Regions from separate parts of the Homo sapiens genome. Here region 2 is linked to region 1. Evidence: fine-mapped expression QTL. A gene starts in region 1. The other region holds a variant in brackets. All regions are shown on one strand. Distances are from middle to middle. Region 1 holds the start of ZSCAN32 (zinc finger and SCAN domain containing 32). Region 2 overlaps LOC105371059 (a long non-coding RNA gene).

Region 1 (2,500 bases):
AACACAGATTAAAGCAGATCGTAATTTACATTTTCTCCAGGGGCTGATACACCCTCACCATGTGGTATTAAAATGGATCCAGCATGCACAACAAGATGAATATACTCAGGACTACTGAGCTGTACACTTAAAAATGGTTATGATGGTAAATGTTTTTTAAAAATTAAAGAAATTTTTTTATATTTTAAAAATGGATTTGGGTTCCCTTTTCTCAAGGAACTTGAACTGCCTTCACTTAAATTCTCTTTACATTTCAGTGCTTCTAGAGATAGAGAAATCAAGGGCATTATTATTGTTAGCACTGCTTTCTAGCCAAAAAGAAACTGAGAGCGATGAAGTATCTTGCCTAAAGCATCACACAGCACAGCTCCTAGGCAGCAAGGCCAGGACTAGAACCAGCACCCCTTGCCTTCATTATGTTCATCCTGTGCCTTACCTGGCTGAAGAAGAATTTAATAAAAGCTCTTCTAACTTCATGCAGAAGGCGGAACCTGCACCCTTCTTGACCCCTTTTGACCCCTTACCTCCCACTCATCGTTAAATTTTAAAATGCTGTTCTCTGAAAATTTTACTTCACTCTAGCGATGGCCCAAACACTCGGAAAAAAATGTAGCATGAGGATGGGGAGCCAGGTTGATAGGTTTTTCACTTAGTTAACTATTTATTGAGTACTCAGAACGCACTCGGTGCCAGGGCTAGGCACTGTGGATGAGTAGGGAGTGGGCGAGACAGGGACGAGATGAGCAGGGTCAAGGCCAGGGGGTCCCGGGGCGCCGGCGCTCAGGCTCGGGGTGATCCGCACGGTGGGAGCGGGGCACGGTGATCGCGGCGCGTCTGGGGACGCCCGGCCTGAGGGAGGCTGCCTGTCCCAAGGAGACGCCCATCGGGGCCGGACCCGAACGCCTCGGAGAAGACTCCCAGCGGGGAGGGGCTCCTCGGCCGTCGCAGGGCCCAGCGGCTAATCCCGCCGGCCGCAAGGAAGCGGAGAACTCACCGGACACCAGCACTCGCGACTCCACAAACTCCCTCAGCCTCCGGGCCGGAAGTCAGCGGCGCGATTCGCTCCGCCCATTACGCACGCCCCTGCGCAGGCCCGCAAGCCGAATTGCCGGACTGCAGCTCCCGGGATGCACTGCGACGGTATTGACAGGCGCAGCAACCAATAGACGGTAGAGAATGCCCTTGGCAGGAGGCGGGCCCTGTCAGTAGTTGTCCTCAGCAGCTAGTGGGCGTCTCCGCAGCGAGTGGCATCGGCCCCGCCCCCAGCCCGTGCTCGCCGGTGTCGGGTCCTAAGTCCCTCGGTCTTGGGTTCCCGGAGAGGTGAGTCGGCTGCAGGTGGGTGCGGGGCGCCGGGCTGTTCGGGGTACCGGTGTCGCAGTCGCCAGTCCGAGCTCACACCGGGCGTGGAGTTCAGCTGCGCATCGGGTTGCGGCAGCTTCGCCAGGCCTGGGGCTGGCTGGGCCGCGGGGCCGCCCTGGAGGCCGGAGCCACTGGGCCTGCGGCGCCTCGGCAGCGAGCAGCCGCTTTGCTCGCGTGCAGGAGGCTGTTCGCTACCTCACACCCCCGGCTGGCGCTGTGGCCTCGCTTAGCTCTACCGTTTAGCACCCGGCGACATGCACCCGGTCGGTTTCCGCCAGGATGCGGGAGAGTTGGGGCAAGCTACCTGCGACAGCTTGAACTTTTCCTAGGGATTCCGCTCCACCCGCCGGTTAGAGCGTATTGCTCATTAAATCCGAGACCTGTGTGCTTGCTACTGAAATAAAAGAAGTATTTTTTCCCCAGAGTCCTTTTAGGACGTTATGACTTTTCTCCTTTGCAAGACTGCAAAAAACTGACAAGAAGACAAAACTCTTCCCACTCCCAGGGACCGCGTTGTCTTGAGTTTGGCTAGTAAAGGCTAGCAAGTGAGGCTTTGTCTCTGCATCCCGTTCCCCCTAACATCCTCAGAGAACCTTCGTTTCTAGAATCTTTCTAGTATTCAGAGACTTCTCCAGGGTCATGATCCCAAAGGCTTAACCCGTTTACAAGGAGAGAGTTGTCTCCTGACGCCCAAAATGGCAGCTAAAATGGAGATAACTTTAAGCTCCAACACTGAAGCTTCCTCCAAGCAAGAGAGACACATAATAGCCAAACTAGAAGAGAAACGGGGCCCTCCTCTGCAAAAAAACTGCCCAGATCCTGAGCTCTGCCGCCAGAGCTTCAGACGCTTTTGTTATCAAGAGGTGTCTGGACCCCAAGAGGCTCTCTCCCAGCTCCGACAGCTCTGCCGTCAGTGGTTGCAACCCGAGCTGCACACCAAGGAGCAGATTTTGGAGCTTCTGGTGATGGAGCAGTTCCTGACCATCCTGCCCCCGGAGATCCAGGCTCGGGTCAGGCATCGATGTCCAATGAGCAGCAAGGAGATTGTGACCCTCGTGGAAGATTTTCACAGAGCATCCAAGAAACCAAAGCAGTGGGTAAGGAGGGTCCTCTCCCATCATCCTGGGGATTTCTTTTTCTT
Region 2 (3,018 bases), 27 kb before region 1:
ATGTTGGTCAGGCTGGTCTCAATCTGCTGACCTCAGATGATCTGCCCACCTCGGTCTCCCAAAGTGCTGGGATTACAGGTGTGAGCCACCGCACCTGGCCTTGAATGCTTTCTTAATCGGTAGCTGCTTTTGGGCCAACTACGGTGGTAATATTTTTTACTCTCTGGAGGAAGGTTATTTCCTAGGGTCTAAACAGCTGTCCCAAAGAGGGACAATATTAAGGATGGGAGATTTGTCTCCTGTAAAATGCATCCTTTCTCCTCTGCAGGTTATGTTCACCTGGTCCTACTCTGAATGAGAATCTGCTGGTTTTTGAAAGGCCTGCTCTGTGATGGAGGGATTGCAATGCCCAGCAAGGTGTGGGCACTTTAGTTAAGTCCTCAGTGTCTGAGTCACACCTCTCCCCCAGACAGATCAATACAGCTGGCTTTCTGCTCGAGAGACGGCCAGAGGCCAGGCGCAGTGGCTCACGCCTGTAATCCCAGCACTTTGGGAGGCCCAGGCAGGTGGATCACGAGGTCAGGAGTTTGAGACCAGCCTGACCAACATGGTGAAACCCCGTCTCTACTGAAAATACAAAAATTAGCCGGGTGTGGGTGGCGCGTGCCTGTAATCCTAGCTACTCAGGAGACTGAGGCAGGAGAATCGCTTGAATCCGGGAGGCGGAGGTTGCAGTGAGCCGAGATCGCACCGCTATACTCCAGCCTGGGTGACAGAGTGAGACTCCATCTCAAAAAAAAAAAAAAAAAAAAGAGAGAGAGGGAGGGGGCCAAAGTGGGACCAGCTTGGGGCTGGGTACTGTGCTGCACGGTGTGACAGCTGTGGATCTGGGGTGGGAGCAGCCACAGACCTTCCTGCACTGCCCTAAGCCAACAGGACCCTGATGTGCTCTGTGTCCCTGGCAGCTGTGGTGCTGAGACCTTGACTGTCGAGGGGGTTTGGTTTACAGATTATTTTGTCACCGAGGTAATGAGCATAGTATCCAATAGGTAGTTTTCCAGTCCTCACCCTCCTCCCACTCTCTACCCTCTAGTAGGCCCCAGTGTCTGCTGTTCCCCTCTTTGTATCCATGTGTACTTCTAAGCTCCCGGTTACAAGTGAGAACACGTGTTATTTGGGTTTCTCTTCCATTGTTAATTCGCTTAAAATAATGGCCTCCAGCTCCATCCATGTTGGTGCAAAGGACATGATTTAATTCTTTTTTATGGTGGTGTAGTATCCCATGGTGTATATGTATGACATTTTGTTTATCTACTTCACCATTGATGGGCATCTAGATTGATTCCATGTCTTTGCTATTGTGAATAGCGCTACAATGAACATATGTGTGCGTGTGTCTTTTTGGTAGAACGATTATTCCTTTGGCTGTATGCCCAGTAATGGGATTGCTGGGTTGAATGGTAGCTCTAAGTTCTTTGAGAAATCTCCAAACTGATTTCCACAGTGGCTGAACTAATGTAC[A/G]TTCCCACCAGCAGTGTATAAGCATTCCCTTTTCTCTGCATCCTCACCAGCATCTGTCATTTTTTGACATTTTAGTAATAGCCATTCTGACTGCTTTGAGATGGTATCTCATGGGGATTTTGATTTGCATTTCTCTTATGATTAGTGATGAGTATTTTTTCACGTGCTTCTTGGCCACATGAATATCTGACTGCTCTTCTAATTCTGTTCTGCTCAGCTGCACTTGCCCCGCTCCACGTTCAAGTGTTTAGCTCTGGCTTTCAGGAATCTCTGTTACCATACCTCTGCTCTCTGAGCCCATACAGGGATTTCTGAAGGGATGAGGTAGGGTGTCAGTGATAGGGTTTTTTTTTCTCTGGGATTATGGGGGGAGTTGCCAAGCTCCTATTAGAGCCAATGAAGCCCCCTTCCTCAGGGACTTTCCCAAGAGAAGAGCCAGAGCTCATACTCAGGACCATTCAGACCATAAGGCCTTATAGAGGAACCCAGTGACTCCAAGAAATGGTGAGACACAAAAGAGTCTCAGGCTGGAAGGGGAAGAATCCAGGGATGAGAGCTCATCAGTGCCTGTGACATCATAGACATGACCGTACAGTTCTGTCATGACCAGAATTGGGGGAAAGAAGCAGGTGAAATGGTGGTGCAGCTGCCAGACTGAGACAGCTCAGTTCCTTATCTAAGCTTTGTCATGTCCTCCAGTCCTCCCTTCAGAAAGGCCCATATTCCATGATAGCCCCTAGAAGGGTCATGTCTTGGTGTTTTACACAGAACTCTTTGGGTTTCTCCATTAACTTAGCTACTGTGCCCAGCAGCCACCAGAGGCCCCAGAAGAAGAAACCAGCAGGGGATCTGGCTGCCTGGGTTCCTCGGGGGTGGTCTCACCATCAGGGGTGGGTGAGACCACCACAGCCACACTGTGAAAGTTTCAGAGTTTTCACTACTTACAGATCCTCAAGATAGGCAGGGTGACCAGAGAGAGGCAGACAGCAGTCCTCAGTTCCAGGTCTTATGTAGTGACAGCAGCTGCACACTTGTGGGAGAGGACTTCTGTTAAAGGCTTATTTGGGGGTAGGATGTCCTAATTTCATGGAATTACTTTCCACTGAGTCCTTCAACCACTTCTAGCACCAAAGGTAGTTGAGCAGTTTGGCATGAGGCTGGAGTTAAAACAGGGCTCTGCAGAGCAACTTCTTGTCTATCTTGGTCAGCCCTTGCCAGGCAACAATCAACTGTGGTTTCTTCATTACTCCTCAGACACTTGGGACATTCATGGTGACCTATTGGCACCCAAGGAAGAGAACCTGATTTTAATTTGGACTGATAAGCAAGTTTTCTGAACAGGTTTATAGGGATTAGTTTAGTCTGGACAGAGTGAGCCGGAATCAAAAGATACTGTTAATACCAGAGGACTAGAAGATCCCATGTGGAGATGTCAGGTGGCTTAGCCATTGAGAAAGAATGACAGTAGATCTGAAATGGTCCAGAGCCCAGATATTCAACAAAGGCTAAGAGCCAAGGTGAGAGGGTAAAGGGAAGGTGTGAACGAACGGGTGAAGC

The links. PIP is the estimated chance that this variant, and not a neighbour inherited with it, causes the effect.
Region 2: its variant is the best candidate, but not a certain one, in a credible set for the expression of ZSCAN32 in whole blood (INTERVAL, PIP 0.85).

Annotation. Positions count from the first base shown.
Region 1 is chr16:3,399,951-3,402,450 of GRCh38, forward strand. ZSCAN32 (zinc finger and SCAN domain containing 32) reads right to left here and starts at 1,054. Exons shown (of 7, transcript NM_001284527.2): 1 at 995-1,054. ZNF174 (zinc finger protein 174) reads left to right here and starts at 1,265. Exons shown (of 3, transcript NM_003450.3): 1 at 1,265-2,456. The coding sequence starts at 2,055. RefSeq lists silencers at 692-841, 1,392-1,611 and an enhancer at 815-1,314.
Region 2 is chr16:3,372,538-3,375,555 of GRCh38, forward strand. All of the region lies in intron 1 of LOC105371059 (a long non-coding RNA gene), which reads left to right. Among named protein-coding and RNA genes, the nearest start is that of OR2C1, 18 kb to the left of the region's middle. The variant A/G (reference allele first, on the strand shown) is at 1,462.